Linked DNA regions of Homo sapiens: region 2 is linked to region 1. Evidence: fine-mapped expression QTL. Tissue or cell type: whole blood. Region 1 holds a variant in brackets; the other region holds the start of a gene. All regions are shown on one strand. Distances are between the middles of the regions.

Region 1 (8,100 bases):
ATCTTGCTGCTTCAGAAGCATTCTTTGTACATTTATATGATTTCTTTATCAGATCTGTGAACTTATTTTTTTCTCTCATTAGCCTGTATACTATTTCTTCCAAATTGAGTGGCTCTGTTAACTTTCCTTACTAGAGCTAATAAGCCTTGGGAAGGAACCTTAATGGTGTTCTGTGATATCATCATAAGGTAGGGTGGTGGAGCCCAAAAGACTTAGTTATAGTAGCAATATGATAAGGGATAAAGAACAACTATCTGAGTCCAGCTGCTTGGGTTCAAATCCCAACTGTACTCTACTAGGTGGAGTTGGCCAGGACCTCTGTTTACATCAGCTTTCTCATCTGTAAAGTAGGCTCCATAATGGTGCCAGTCTCACTGGATTGTTCGGAAGGTTAAATGAGATAGTGATGTAAAATGTTAAACGCCGTTCTTGGCATGTGGTAAGCAATCAGTACATGTTGGATGTTACTCTTATTGTTCTTGCCTCACTAAGATCATGTGAAATCAAAATGATGATTCCGGCCAAGAAAGTCAAGCCCAAAAACTTGTTCAAAATTACATAGCAAATCATTAGAAGAACTAGGGTGAGAACCCAGGTCACTTGACATAAGTAAGCACGAGAGTCTATAGTCCATCTGTCGTCCGACATTCATTGGCATCTGGACACAAAGCTCAGCACCCTTCAAGGTGAAGACTGTCAAGAGCCCAGCTGATTGGCAGAGAGGAAGCTATGAGGCAGTGTAGCATGATGGCTAAGAGCACAGACTTGGAGCTGAATTGCCAAGCGCAGGTGACCTTGAGCAAGTTACTTTAATCTGTGACTTAGTTTTCTCATCTGTAAAGTGGAGATGATAGTAGTGCTTACCTCAGAGACTTGTACATGTTCTAAGCCCTTTATAGCTTGCCTAAAACATTGCCAGGCACATAGTAAATACCCAGTAAATCCTGAAACCTGCAGATCTCTTGACTGAGCAGCCTAGGGACCCTCTGGAAATGCTTTCTGGCTTATGCCCCATGTGCTGATAGCAGTGCTTTCCCCCATGTGGCCTTAATAACTTCTCTAAGCCCTGTCCCACCTCTTGGATTAGATCCTCAGACCCCTGGTGAGGCAGGGAGAGGAGCCAAGAGCCTTCTGTAACACAGGACAAAACTGCAGCTCAAAAAGGGGAGGCAGCATGTCCAAGGCTCCACAGGCAGGCAGAACTAGGACTGGAACCCGAGCCCCCTGGCTCCCAGCCCAGGGTTCTTCTTGCCACCCTGTGTCTCAGCTGTAGAATGACAGGACAGAGAAAGAACTAAAAGTACATCATGGCGTGAATTTCTGACCAGTGGCCAAGCTAGAATATAGCCCTGGATTTCAGACATAGCTACCTCCCGCTGAGAATCTTGGCACCCCCATCATCACCGGCTCTCAGGAGAAGCAGGATTCAGTGAATGCTGTCTCTTAGATGGAGGCATGTGCCAGTAGGAGAGGAGCCCGGGGGACTGTGGGGAACTGTGGTCCTGGCTGTGGCTAGACAGGGCACCTGTGGATGCCTTTACAGCTCCCTAATCAGGTAATGCTTCTTGAAAACCAGTGGGCACTCTGCCTGTGTTAACTCTTCAGATCACATAATGCAAGCTGTTCTCTTCCCCAAGGGCTAACCATGGCCCTCACCCATGGGGCCACTTCCTCGGAAATCACCCCTACACCCTGTGGTGGAGAGAAAAGGGCTGTAAAGCTATGTTATGGATATCTTTTTTAATGAAATGAAGAAATGTAAATACATTTTAAAATATATTCATTTTGAAGAAAAGTAAATCAAAGGGACACGGGCATCACACAGACTTGCAGAGTTGAGAGGCATTCTGGAGCCATCTGAGTGTTTCTCTCCTCCCTCGCACCACAGTCCACACTGATCGTGACTGACTTTGTCCATGTCTGCACCATTCGATGGGGTGCTTCTTAAGGACAGAGACCAAGACTTGTTCCCTGTTGTAACTCCGGTGTCCAGCACACACAGGATGCCCTCAGGAAACGTGGAATGGATGGATGGGTGGGTGGATGATGTGGTGATCAGAACAGGAGAGGCCTCCCTGAAAGAAGACACCCCAAGTCAGATTTAGAAGGTCAGGTACATGATTTGGGTCTTTTAAGGAAGAGAATGAGGGACTCGTAGGAAATGAGTGCACAGAAAAGGAGACAGGAAGTCAGAAAAAAACATCTTGAGCGTGAGATAGAAGATCTTATGTTGGTGTGGTGTGAAAGCCTTGGGGATAGTTGAGGTGCTCTCCTCCCTAACCCTTCTCTTCACTTTCCTGCCTCCAAACGGAGTTGGTACTTGCTTGTTTCCACACAGGGCTTCATCAGGCTGGACATGTCCGAGTTCCAGGAGCGACACGAGGTGAGTGATGACAGTCCTTGATTGAAGCATGGTTTGGAGGGCTTGTCAGCATGACTGCCGGGGTCTTGTCATTTGGGCCTCAGATAATTCCAGCAGCCTTGGGATTTGTCGTTGGGAGCACAGGTGTGCAGCAGGGTCACTGATTTGTTTCACATAGGATTTGCTCTGAAGAATAAACATAGAGAAGATCTATCTGCCACACCAGGAGATGGACAGCCAATCATCTCTGTTGAGAGAGGCAACCTTAATAGCGTATAAAGTCATCTTCCCATGCATGCCCCATGTTGGAAACTAAAAGCACAGAAAGGCCTTCCTAGCATGTTTCCTTCCTTCTACCAGGTGGCCAAGTTTATTGGGTCTCCACCAGGCTACGTTGGCCATGAGGAGGGTGGCCAGCTGACCAAGAAGTTGAAGCAGTGCCCCAATGCTGTGGTGCTCTTTGATGAAGTAGACAAGGCCCATCCAGATGTGCTCACCATCATGCTGCAGCTGTTTGATGAGGTGAGTCACCTTGGGCCAGGATGGAGCGGGGGGACACCTGGAGATAAGGGGGACTGTGAACAGCAGAAAGCAAGGGCCCAGAGGCTAGCTGGTCATTCCTCGGCTTCCTGCTCCCGCATGTGTACATTCATTCATCCAGTAGGTGCAACTTAGCCCCTCTGCACTAGGGCCTGGGTGGGGCACTCAAGCGAAGACCAGCCCTGCCTAAGAGTTGAAATTGTGTGGCTGCTCAGCCCACCTTCTAGAGAGACATGGTATGGCAGAGGTGCCATGAGAGCGAGACATGAATTTTTAGTTCCAGCTCTGCTCCTGACTGGCTTTGTGGCCTTGGCAAGTCACTGCCCATCTCTAGGCATCAGAGATCTCATGTGACAAACGAGGAGGCTGAATCAGAGAAGCCCCAAAAATCCTTCTGCCTCAGACAGCTCTTGTTCCTCCCTGTGTGCCAAACATTGTCTCCTGCAGTTCTTTAA[A/G]ATGCTAATATTGTTGCTGCTAATGGTGAGATGCTGATACTCTGATTCATGGAGCCTTTCTCTTCTGAGAATCTGAGGGTTCTCACAGACTGTCCAGTTCCCCTGCTCGTAGGGGTAAGTTCTAAATGGAGAGAAGAGCTTACTTCTATCCAGTACCTTCTGTGTACTAGACCTGTACTAAAGACGTTACAGCCATTATCACTAATCCTCACAAGGTAGGTAGAAAAATTCCTAACAGGCAAGGGAGAAATTAGCTCATTTTTTACAGATGAAGAAACTGAGGTTCAGAGAGGTTATAAAAGACATGCCTAAGGCCACAGCTGCTGTGTAAAGAGCCAAGATTGGGCTGCAGATATGTCTGATCCCAGAGCCCCAATTCTCCCCCCATACCACTGTTTACCTTGAACCAGGCGAGGGATTGCTTACGATCACGGAAGAAGATGACTTCCACCTTTTCAGGGGCCCTGCTCCATCAAGAGAGCGTGAGGAGCCAAGGACTGAACCGGGGATGAGGCCTCTCTTCTCTCATGCAGGGGCTATATTAGCTAGCACCTGGCCATGAGTCCAGCTCACCTTTCTACCTAGTCTCCTGCAGCCCTAGGAAAACAAAAAGGTGGTTTGCTTCCCATGTCATAGGAGGCCACAGGGAGGGGACTCCTCCAGACCGAACAGCACATCAGGTACCAAGCCAGGAAGATCCAGATCCAGATCTCCTACCAGCTGCTCACTGCCTTCCCCACCTGGCCCAGCCTCCTTGCCCCTGCCCGTTCCGTTGTATCTTCCTAGCCCTTCAGCTGCTCCCTGCCCCTGAACCTCTGCTGAGGAAGAAGAGACCAGTCCTTCAGAGGTCACATACTCAGTTACTCACGTGTACACTGAGGCCTCTACTCCATTCCAGCCTCTTGATGGGATTCAAGTGCACAGCTATGACCAGACCCGAATGTGCCCTCTTGGAGCTCTCTGCCTGGTAGACAGGTGGAAAGGAGACATGGTAGTAGCTGGCATTTTGCATTTTGTGTGCCATTCGCTGTCTTCAGAGGCTTATGTGTATCAATTTAACCCTTTCAACAACCCTCCAAAGCTAGCTATTATTACGGCCTCCATTGAACAGATGTGGAAACTGAAGCAAAGTAAGATTAAGTCATTTACCTGTGGTCATGCAGCTGGGGAGAGAGAATCAAGGATTCAAACCCAGGCAGCCCAGTTCTAGATCCTGCAGCTTGAATGACTGCCACGCAGCTAGGGCCAAAAGAGCGAGGTCCGTCTCAGTGAAGCACGCAAGGGACGGGACCATGCCGCTGAGGGAGGGTGAGCATCGCGGCCTGTTTGATCTCTGGTCTCCCTGGAGAGGCACCTCTGATGGCATTCTTGGCCCAAAAAACAGAAGGCAACTGCTGACTGAAGTACAATCAGCCATACATGGAAGCCCTGTCTCCCCCTCCTCCGTCACTTCACTCCACTGACTGCCTTTTAGGGGTTGATAGGAATTCCTTCCTGCAGCTGTTGTCGCCCCTTCCCCCAGCCCCAGCCTACTATAGTTTCTGATGCTCTTGGTTCCATTGACCAAAGCTGCCATCCAGGTTTACTCGATTTAGGCTCTTTGAGGATGGGCCCTTGTCATGTTCACTTGAACCATTCCCAGAGCCCACAAAGTCAGGGGAAATGTTGTATTGACTAATTTAATTCAACAGTAGTTTTAATTCAACAGTAGTTAGCAAACCTTCAAAGGGTTAGTAAGTGCTAGGTGAACAGAGTGGCGGGGCTGGCAGTAGAAACCTAATGTATAAAAGTACAGGGCATGAAACAGGCTGGCATGCTCAGGGAACTGCAGCTGGTCAGTACTGCTCGATTGCAGAGGGAAAACAAGGACAGAGTGCTAGAGACAAGGTAGGTAAGGTAAACAGGGCCCAGTTAAAATGCCAGGCACAGAAGTTTGCATTTCTCTGGTAGAGAGTAAGGAGCCTTTTAAAGACTTTAAGCAAGAAAGAAACAGTCAAATTTTCACTTTACAAAGATGCCGTGGGCAGCTGTGTAAAGAATGGATGAGAAGGGAGAGGGTCATTAACAAGGAGACTGCTGGGGAGCCCAAGCTACAGCTGGGGAGGCCATGGGCTGGAGAAACTACTAGAAGGTTGACTGAGGAGAGGAGGAGGAGCCAAGGGTGGCCAGTTGGCTGCTGCCAGTTGGCCATCAGCTAAGGCGGCGAACACAGTGGGAAGCCGCAGATTGAAGAGGAAGGTGAGGCACTGAGGTGTGGAAATGTTGAAGGTGAGATACCTGAGGGACATCCAGATGGAGATGGCCAAGGGGCCGTTCATCAGTTTTATGGGTCAGGAGTTTAGGAAAGGTCTGACTGAAAATAGCAGTTCAGGAATCCTTCAGCCCAGAGAGGTTAACGGAAGCCACAGGAATGGATGAGGTCTGTAACCCAGGGAGTGTATAATGTGCAGAGAAAAGAGGGCTATACACAGAGCCTTGGGACCTATCAGGGAAGTCAAGACAGACTCGCCAGAGAAGTAGGAGGCAAAACCAGGCCAGGCATGATGGGTCACACCTGTAATCCCAGCACTTTGGAAGGCCGAGGTGGGCAGATCACTTGAATTCAGGGGTTCGAGACCAGCTTGGGCAACATGGCAAAACCTTGTCTCTACAAAAAATACAAAAATCAGCTGGGCATAGTGACATGTGCCTGTAGTCCTCACTACTCAGGAGGCTGAGGTGGGAGGATGGCTTGAGCCTCAGAGGCTGAGGTTGCAGTGAGCAGAGATTGCACCACTGCGCTCCAACCTGGGCAACAGAGCCAGACCCTGTCTCAAAAACAAAAAAGAGCCAACCAAAAGAATGTGGCTCATTCATTTATTCATGAGGCGCTGTGTGGGGTAGAGGGGACACTGACAAAACAGATGCAGCCCTGGCCTTGGCGTGACCAATGAGTGCGGAGACAGGCAGCTAAAAAGTAGTTCAGTCCACTGTGGTCGGTGCTGCGCTAGGGACAAGCAGCAAGTGCCAGGAGTTGTAGGGGCACCTAATCCAGGCTGGAGGTGTGAGGGAAGCAGCCTCACCCCTACCCAGTCTAGTTCTCCCAAGCCTGGGCCCAGAAAAGTAAGAACCCTATTGCTCTCATCAAAGCACCAAGCAGGTCTACTGCTGGCCACTCACAGGTGACCCCAGGGCAGAAGTCCCAGAAAGAGACTAGTCCCCAGAGAGCCCAGCCCCCACTCCTCCCACCAAGGAGTCATACGTGAGACAGTGGGAAAGCAGCCCCATAACCCTGGGGTGAGCATTCAAGCCCCACCCAAGATGTGCACGCTCTGGTTGTTAGAGGGAGGTGAGGCACGGACAGCTTCCTGTTTGAGACACATCTTTATTGCTAAGGAAACTGAGGAGGAGACATGAGCACTGAAAGTCACCCTTTGGGTCAGTCATGCACTGCACCTGCTCCCCTCACCCACCTGGGACCCATCCTCAGGCCCAGTTATGAGCAGAGCTTTGATCTCTGAGAATGAAATTGCTGCTAGGTTATTGCTCTGGCCAGTATAGCAGTGTGTGAACCCAGTCCTTAGGGATGAGCTCTGCAAAGTGAGTATGGAACACACACACAGTCATATGCACATGCTTGGACATGTCACACACACACACACACACACACACACACACACACACACACACACACACACACACACACACACACACCTGGTCCCCAAAACTAGAACTGCCCTCAGTGGATCTGTTAGATTAGAACCCATAAGCAGTGGGGTAAGAGTGAAAAGCTGCTGGTAAAAGCTCAAGGACATCTGCTTGCACCCTTGCTTCCCTTTTCCTGCCCCAAGGCAGGGACAGCAGAGTGACCAGCTCCAGGATGTGGATTACCAGGCCCCTTGTGTATAGACCCTTTGGGAATTAACAGTTTCTCAAAGGCCTCTGCCAAGGTCCAGTGGAAAGCAAGGCTGGAAACTACACCCAGCATGCAGTAAGCTAGCTCGGTTGATGCACAGTCCTTTCTCCTTTGCTCCTAAGGAGTAGGACTGGGTTTACCATTACACTGGCTTTAGAAGCAAGGGCTAACCCTGAAGCTCGGGCAGGGCCCAGCATCCCTGGCTCAGGCAGGAGCCAACAGGCTGAGGTCAGTGATGTATATCCCCAGAGCCACGGTTTCTGGCTTGGCGGGAGCTGTGCTTTCTCTGCTTCCCAAAAGAAATCTCAGGTAGATCTCCTCCCTAGCACCTGTCCCAGTTGCATCTCTCCAGTGAGGATCAAACTGAATTTGGCAGAATTCTGAGAAAATTCTGTCGAAGGAAAGAAAATAGCACGAGGCCTCATTCATCCAGCACCATTGGTCTGACCTCTGTAGCCTGGTGCAGAGGAAGGGCATGGGCTCTGAGGTCAGATAGTTCAAGTCTCGCCTCTACTGTATCCTAGCTGTGAAACCTCGAACAAGTTATGATCCTCTCTGAGCCTCAGTTTCTTTGTAGGGGTCCTAACTGCACCTACCTCCAAGGGTGGATGTGAAGATTCCAGCCTCCAGCAAGCAGGTGTCAAACACCTACTCTGTACCGGACGCTGTTCTGGGACACAGTGATGAACAAGACCCAGCCTCTGTTGTCAAGGAGCCACTTTCCTAGTAGAAGGAGTGGGGTTGTACACAAAAAGCACTAAGCAGAGCATCTGTGATGAAAGTAGAAGTCCCTGTCCGTGTTCGGCATTGTCACTCTATTGCTTGCTCTCAAGGAGTCCCTGATCATT
Region 2 (8,080 bases), 75 kb after region 1:
CCTTGTCCACCTCACTAGGGAAGACATCAGATCAAAAGAACTCCCACCCCGACCTAAGTATAGGGAAGGGGGCGCTGGGTGTAGCCTCAACCTCACCACAAGGATAAAGGCTACCAGTGAGGAAAGTCAAGAGGCAATGGCTAGTTCACTGTTCAGGATCAGAGATCAGGGCACCTGTGCAGCCGGGAAGCAGGTGAGGACAGGTCAGAGGTAAGGGTGTAATACATGGGGCTGGATGTCCCAGATACCTGTGCAGCCTCCGGCATGAGGTAGCGAGGGTACGGGTGAGGTGGGGCAGGTGGCTGGCTCCACCCCTCACAGCTTCCAGGTCCAGCCCATAGCTGCCTTTCAGGTAGTCGTGCGAGACGGTGCTCAGCCCATTGGGAGCACTTTGGGGAGGGGTTAAGAAGTCAGTGGAGGTCCTGCTGACCTGTCCCAGCACCTCTGCCCCATCCCTAGAGGAGATAGTACCTGTGGCAACCAGGGCGGGATGGATCAGGTTATCTGCCTCTGGGCTGAGGTGGGGTGGGGGTCCCTGGTGGGGTCTTAGAAGGCCTCCCCACCTTTGGTAGGGAAATAGTTCTCAGAGGAGAAAGGGTCTCCTGTTCAGTGGATGGGATGGGGGTCTCACCTCTCAGCAGCTGGAGCTGTGGGAGTCTCAGGAGCTGGCAGGGGACTGCTGGGCCCAGTGGGGGCAGAAATGCTGGTGGAGCCAGAGCGCGGGGGCAGCGGGGGCTTCTCATCCTCCCCATCTGTGGGCAGGGGTCAGTGGGCAGCCGTTTGGGCCTCCCACACTCAGTGGAGTAGGAGGCACGATGCAGCTGTAAAGTGACTTCCATGGAAAGAGGGTTAAAGGGCCCCGGCATCATGGCCAAGGGAAAGGGGGTTACAGGAGAGGTGGGGTTGAGAAGGGGGGATGGGAAGAGGCAGGTAGAGCCAAGGGACAGGGGCAGGGAGGGGACCTGCACACTGGGAAGTACCTGAGGCATCCCGGTCATCCGGTGGGTCCGGCTCTCGCTCACCCTCTACAGGAAGAAGCAGGGCGCACACAAGGCCCTGGTTGGGCTGGGCGTACAGGCCGATGAGCTCACCCAGGGTCTGGAAGCGGCGCACAGGCACACCCTGCGAGGTCTGTGGGCCAGCAAGGGTGGGAGGAAGGGTCAGCCAGCAGGTCCCCAAGCCCTAGGCTGGATCAAGGTCAGGGGTCAGGGGCCCAAGCTCCTACCTGCACAGCCAAGAAATCTTCTCCATCAGGCAGAATGCGATACGTGTGCACATGCTTCTGATACCTGATGCCAAGGCAGGGCCAGAATCTGTCACCCCCAGGCTGGGGTCTAAGACCCAAAGCACCCCTTCCTCCTGCCAGCAAGCTCAGCACCCCAACCCCCTCAGCTTGGTTTCCCTAAAACCACCTGCCCAGGCTGCACAGGGTTAATGATGTGGCCGGTCCACTTCCACCCTCCTGGTGTTGCCTATTGGGCAGGAATGACCAGAACACCCCCGTCTCCCCACCAGACCTACACAGACTCCACACCCACCACAGGGCAGGGCCTGAGAAGCAACAGGGAGCTCTTTTGTGGCCTCCACAGCTGTCTAAACAGCCCCTCTGGGCTGTGGTACCAGTCTGGGCTCCCCGCCAGAGTAAGAGTCTTCAGAAGCCTGGTTAGCCCATTTGCACACACGGGCAACGTGCTAACACGTGTGTATGCCTCCTGTGTTTATGCTGCTCTCTGGCTCTGCTGGAGTCGGGTATGTCTAGGGCACTTGTGCCGAGGAGTGTGGGGGCATCACCCTAGGCCTTCCCACCAAAGAGGGCCCCCATGGGAGACCTGGGCCTCTAGGAGCCCCAAGCCAAGGAGGGGCAAGAGGGGTGCTGACAGACAGGAGCCGCAGTTGAGCAGGTGGCAGCTGAGCCAGGTGCACAATCAGCGGGGGATGGAAGATCCTCTGCCTCCGCACCTCAGGGCATGCTTCCCCAAGGAGTCACCCAGGAGTCACCCTAGGTGACTCTCCTGGCTGCTTATGCTGGGTGAGTGTCTGTCACCAGGTGTTCCTTTGTAGACTATTACAAACACTATCTGTGTTTATTACAATAGCATACCATTAACTGAATCCTATCTGTGACACGCTGGGTACCCAGTGTCCTATAAATCTTACTTAATTCTCACACTTCTAAACAGATATTATTATCCCCATTCTCCAGCTGAGGAAACAGGCTCAAAGAATAAAAGTGATTTTCCTAAGGCCACAGAGTAAGTAAAAGGTGGAGTTGGGATTTTAAACCATGGCAGAAGCCAGGGCCAGTATCCTAGCTTGCTGGTCAGATTGCCTGTGCCTGCTGGGGCAGGGGCGTGTCTTGCATGTTATCCATGAACACCCGGAATGTATACAGGTAAGCAAGTATGTGTGTATTTGGCAAATCTAAGATATTGCCCACGTCTGATCGCCCACGTCTGATCCTTACCCCCAGGCTCTTGAGATGCGGGGAAGAGCCAGAGTCAGCTGGCAAACCTGAAGCCCCCACTCACAGACAGACCCCTCACCCCATTCACAGCCTCCCTTGGCAATGAGGCCAGGATTCTCCCCCTCCTGGGACAATAATGTTCCTCACCCAGACACAGGCCCCAGCTGTCCCCCTCCCACTCAACAGCTGACCCAGCACCTGCCTCCCTCCCCAGCCTAATTAGGGGGTATGCCTCAGAGGGGGCTGGGAAGCAGGACTTGGGGATATTCATCTGCCTAGTCTGTCCCTCCTTAGTCTCCCCCTACTGGGCCTCAGACTTGAGGCCTAAGCTAAGACTTATAGGGCCCCTTCCTTGTTGGGTCAATTGCCTAGGCTAGAGTTTTTCAACCTCCATACCACTGACATTTTGGATTGCACAGTTCTTTGTTGTGGGGGACTCTCTTGTGCACTGTAGAATGTTTAGCAGTATCCCCGGCTTCTACCCACTAGATGTCAATAGCACCATCCCAGTTGTGACAATTAAAAATGTCTCCCCAGCTGGGCGAGGTGGCTCCACCTGTAATCCTAGCACTTTGAGAGGCCGGGGCAGGTGGATCACTTGAGGTCAGGAGTTCAAGACCAGCCTGGCCAATATGGTGAAACCCCATCTCTACTAAAAATACAAAAATTAGCTGGGCTTGGTGGCGAGCGCCTGTAATCCCAGCTACTGGCGAGGCAGAGGCAGAAGAATCACTTGAATCCAGGAGGCGGAGGTTGCAGTGAGCCGAGATTGCACTACTGCACTCCAGCCTGGGCAACAGAGCGAGACTCTTTCTCAAAAAAAAAAAAAAAAAAAAAGGTCTCCCCTGGTCTAGGCTAATGTGCGCCCCGACCAAAGATGTCAGGAGAACAAAGGGGTAAGGAAGGTACAGTGGGACAGGAGTTTGGGAGGGGGTTCACAGAGCTAAGAAAGATCTAAATAAAGATCTAAATAACTGATCTAAATAAAGCAGCCCCCACAGATTCCCACTCACTGGGCCCACAGAAGCCAACTCAATGTCAGACTGCAGGGCAGGAGGTACAAAGCCGCTAGAAGGCTGCAAAACCAAGAGTGCTAACTCACCCCAGCACCACTACCAACCACACTGGGCTGAAAGGCACAGCCACAGGACCTGGCCCACTCAGAGAAGCACCAAGTCTGGCTCTGCTCTCACTCAGCACTCATAGCTCAGGGCTAGGGCAGCCAGGTAACCAGGGCTCAAGCCCAGAGCCAGGGCTCAAACACTCACTCATTGGTTCAGAAATAATGGCAAGGTCCCATACAGCCTCAGCCTCTGCTTCCCCAAGCCTTCCTCTCTACACCACCCATCACCGCCCCCACCACCCATACACGGCCAGGCAGAACCCCAAAGCACCGAAAGGGGCCCTAAGGAAGCTGCCAGGCATCCCCACACACCCCGTCAGTCCCTCTGCCCCGACTCCCTCTCCTGCTCACCACTCAGTCCCTATCCAAACGGGACTGCACACAACGTGGAATGCACATCCTCTCCCCTGCTCCCTTCTACCTGGAGGATGCCTGAAGGGGTCTGCCGGGGAATGCCCGAATTTTTCGTCATCACAGTCACACTGGGCCACAGAACCCCATATTCTCTACCCTCAAGGCTCCTGAAAGTGCCCCCAGACACACAGCAGGAAGTGCCCCTGCGTCCCTCCTCAGACCCAGGAGAAAGCCAAGGCTCCCACTCTGGGGGGTGGAGGCGGGTCTGGCGTCCCACCGCCCCAGAAACCCTCACCCGGGCCCTTTCCACACCCGGCCGTGCCCGCGCTCCCGGTCCACGCCAGCCCGCAAGGAGCCCCCGCCCCACTCACAGGACGCAGAGCGCGAAGGCCCCCGCCACGCTCTCGCTGTCTCGGACCAGGAAGCTGCCATCGCGGCCCGCCCGGGCCAGCAGCTCCTCCGCGGCCGCCCGGCTCAGGTCGCGGTGGTACCAGGAGGGGGCCTGGCTGCCCAGGGCGCCCCCCGGGCCCGGCGCCCCGCAGGCCGAGGCCATGGCCCGCGCAGGGCTCAGCACCGCCCGCCCCCGCCGCCCCGCGCCATCCGCCCCGAGACGCTCAGGGCTGAGGCTGGGGCCGGGCCCGGGGCCCGGGCTTGAGGATCCGTGGGCCGGACAGAGCCGGGGATCGGGACTCAGCACTCCGCCGCGCAGGCCGCCTCGTTCACCGCGCAGCCGCCGCTGCCTGCAGCGCCGGCCTCAACTTGAAGAGAAAGAAAAGTTTGTTCAGAGGCGGCGGGGGAGGGGCAGGAGCGGAGCGCAGGGCCGGCTGCCGCCCCCTCCCCCTCCGCTCGGCCCGCAGCCCGGGCCGCCCCTGCCCCCAGCTCCTCCTGCGGGGACGGTGCCCCCACCTTCCCGAAGGGCCCGGGACCTCCCAGACCCCACAATGATCCTGCCCCCATCATTCACCCGAGGAGATCCAGTCCCCAAATCCCCATCGAAATCCGAGTCCCCCCATCCTGGCCCCGACACTTCGGGATCCAGGCACCCCCTGGAGAATTCAGCGCTTCTCAGTTCTCCCAATGATATGACCCCTAAGCCCCATAAAGGTCTGATTCCACTCCATGGCTCTTCCTCTCGTCCCCCTTACAGCTTGGCTGCATCGAGTTCCCCAAACCTGCGAAGGATCCAGGACCACCCCCTACCCATCCTCTTCCCTCCACCCAAGCGGGCGGGGCCCCCAACTCCTGCGAAATGCAGCCCCCTCTTAGATCTGAACCCCCAACTCCACGGGAACCGTCCCCCGGCAAAGCCTGCGGGGAGATTCCCTGGCTAACCAGGCTTCTGAAGATTCTTACTCTGGCGGGGGGCCCAGACGAGGTGCGACGTTCTCGAGCCTCTCACGCAGCCCCTCCCAGCCCCGCAGAGCCCTTCCCCCTCTCGGCCAAGTTCCCCAGCACCACCCCCCACACCCGCAGGCCGGGCCTTGAGGGGGTTCAGCAGTCCGAAGCCAGGAGGATCCCTGGCCCGTCTAGTAGAAAGTTCCCTCCCGGGATCCCGGCCGCCGCACGCAGACCCCCACCTCCCGGGCTGCTCCGGCGCCCCCTTCCCCGGACAGCGGCCCTGGGCTCCAGGCGGCCACTTAAGATGGCCATCCGCGCGCGCCCCCGCCCTCCGCGCCGCCCGCCCCGCCCCGCGCCGCCCCGGGGAGCCGGGGGCAGCACCGCGCCTCGCCTCACCCCGCCCCGCGCCTCGGTCCCGGAGCCGCTGGCCCACTGGGTGACCTCGGGCAAGTCGCGGCGCGGGGTTGAGCGTCGGCTTCCCGCTCTGGAAAATGGGGATCCTGTGGCGAGGGCCGGCTCTGGGGGCCGAGCTCGTACCGCGCTCGGCACCGGGCCTGGCGCCCAGCCCGCGCTCCCGAACGGCGGCTATTTTTATTATTAATTAAGGAGAAACGAAGGTGACAGCTGTGTAAACTGTAAAGCGCGGCTGCGGAACGAACGGGTATTATTAGCACTCGCCCCCGCCCCAGCGGCTCCCTCCGAGTCAGCAAACTCGCGCCTCCGCGGGCCGGACGCCCAGCGGGGAGCTCCCAGACGGGGTCCGCTGCAACGCCCCCCTAGCTTCCTCCCCTCCAGCCGAGGGCGGAAGGGGGACGCGGCAGCCGCAAAGGGGGCGGAGCCCATAAAAGGGTCTGGCCCGCCCCCTCCCAAAAAAAGACCTAGCCGGTGGCGGCGTCTCCGGGGAGTCGTCTTCCTGCCCCGCCCCTCCGCCCCCTGGCTCCTTAAAGGCGCAGGCCTCCAGCCGGGCGCCCGCCGCCACCATCTCCTGGGCCGCCGTGGGAGAATCCCTTTAACCTGGGAGAGAACTTTCACTTTGCTACGTTGAACCTGTTGACGGAGCCCGGGTCAGTCCCTCGAGCTCCTTCCTCTATTTCAAATATGCATTGACTTAACCCAGCTGGAGCAGAGCCTGGGACGTGGAAGGGGCTCTGTGGGGCCTTCCACACTAGATAAATATAATAACTAAGAGATCCACCCACCCACCCAACAGTGCCTCCAGAACCCAATAACTCATCCTACAATCTGTGCCACCGTTCTCATCAGCCACCTTTTAGTATAAGAAAAGATGAGCCTGATGTGAGGGGAATCCTTGGTAGTGGGGGAGAGACCTGGACTGGGAGTCTGCACACCTGGGTTCTAGTCCTAGCTGGGCCACCTACCTGCAGGGTGTTCTCAGAGACTTACCTGGGCCTCTCTGGGGACAGTTGTAGTAGGAGTGTGCAAACAAAGACTTATCCAAAGGGAAAGGGGTGTTGGGAGACCCAGAGATAACTTAGGCCCAGCTCCCGAGGGCTTTGCAAAGACAGAGCAACCCCCTCAAGATAGGCATATCTGCCAATCCCAGGAGGAGACAAAGGTGCCAGAGGCTCCTGACCCCGGGAAGCCCTTAAGGGTTTCTAACTCTTCCAGCCACACCTCCAGGACACCAAAGCGCTGAACCAGTTCCAGGCTCTTGAGTATTCCACTCCAGAAACCCCCTACACTGCCCTCTCCAATTGGCTCTGTTTTTCCTCTGAGAGTCCCAGGCCCCAACTCTGCTCCTTCAATGTGCATCACGTTTTTTTCATCCCACTGTGAATTTTTTTCATCCCACTGGCAATCTGAATCCTTTCCTGGACTCCCATTCCCAGCTTTCCTGTTACAGAGCCGAGCACAGAGCCAGGCACAAGGGCTGGAGGACCAGGAGGCTGTTTGGAGACCAAGACAAATAAGCTCAGGACCTGGCTCCCACTTGGGGCAACAGGAACAACAGGATCCCTGAAGACTATTAATGTGCAGACACTGGGCTCACGGGCTTTCTAGGCAACAGCTCCTGTATATTTCACAAGCCTGAGGGCAGGACTATTATCCTCTTTTTATCCAGAAGGAAACAAAGGTTTAGAGCAGTGAAGCAACTGTTTCATTTTCACAAAGTAGCAGAGCTGGGATTCAAACACAGGTCTAGTTGCTCTAATTTGAAGGAATCCAGAAGCCGTAGAATCTGTCTCCCACCCACCCACAAACTCACAACCAAAACAATTCCACAGACATGGAATTATTAGAAAACAGTCTGTTTATTAGAAGTGACTCTTGGCCCCACCATGGAGCAGCAACAGACTGGGTGACAGAGGGTTAGGTGACTAATAGAAGCATGCTTAAGGGGCTGTCATTTGTGGGAGCTGAGCTGAGCCCAGCCTGGTTATCCAAGCTGAGGGCAGGTAGTCTGGGAGGACTGAACTCAGCCAAGGAGCCAGAGTTGCAGCATCAGGGCCAGACTGAGCAGGAGACCCCCAGTCCCATGAAGCATCTCACCAGCATTCACATGCATGGCTGCAGCATAGAACCTCGCCACTTCCTCGTTGGGGTTGCCCTGGGCTGAATCAAACCACATCTGGATGCAGCGGCCGCTCCCTCGGCTGTAGTTGCTGACCTTGTATGAGTGACTCCAGAGGCCTTCACAAAGGGCAGCTGGAGTGGGGAAGTAGGACTCAAAGGTGCGGCAGAGAGCCCCAGCTGGGCACTTGTTAACTCCTGCAGGGAGAGGCATGGTGGACACAGACTTTCAGCCCCTGGGCCCAAAGCTCATTTCTGGCCACCCCCAG

The links. PIP is the estimated chance that this variant, and not a neighbour inherited with it, causes the effect.
Region 2: INPPL1 starts here. The variant in region 1 is fine-mapped to the expression of INPPL1 in whole blood (TOPMed, PIP above 0.99).

What each region holds. Positions count from the first base shown.
Region 1 is chr11:72,296,587-72,304,686 of GRCh38, reverse strand. It overlaps CLPB (ClpB family mitochondrial disaggregase), which reads left to right. Exons shown (of 16, transcript NM_001258392.3): 10 at 2,339-2,383; 11 at 2,723-2,884. It overlaps LOC124902708 (a long non-coding RNA gene), which reads right to left and starts at 4,724. Exons shown (of 3, transcript XR_007062766.1): 1 at 4,507-4,724; 2 at 4,226-4,321; 3 at 1,726-3,954. RefSeq lists an enhancer at 2,290-3,489. The variant A/G (reference allele first, on the strand shown) is at 3,358.
Region 2 is chr11:72,221,399-72,229,478 of GRCh38, reverse strand. It overlaps INPPL1 (inositol polyphosphate phosphatase like 1), which reads right to left and starts at 4,712. Exons shown (of 28, transcript NM_001567.4): 1 at 4,313-4,712; 2 at 1,226-1,289; 3 at 981-1,131; 4 at 632-752; 5 at 249-389; 6 at 1-14. The coding sequence starts at 4,494. It overlaps FOLR2 (folate receptor beta), which reads right to left. Exons shown (of 5, transcript NM_000803.5): 5 at 7,529-8,009. The coding sequence ends at 7,717. RefSeq lists an enhancer at 2,462-2,821 and silencers at 4,227-4,436, 4,447-4,806, 5,357-5,756, 5,997-6,226.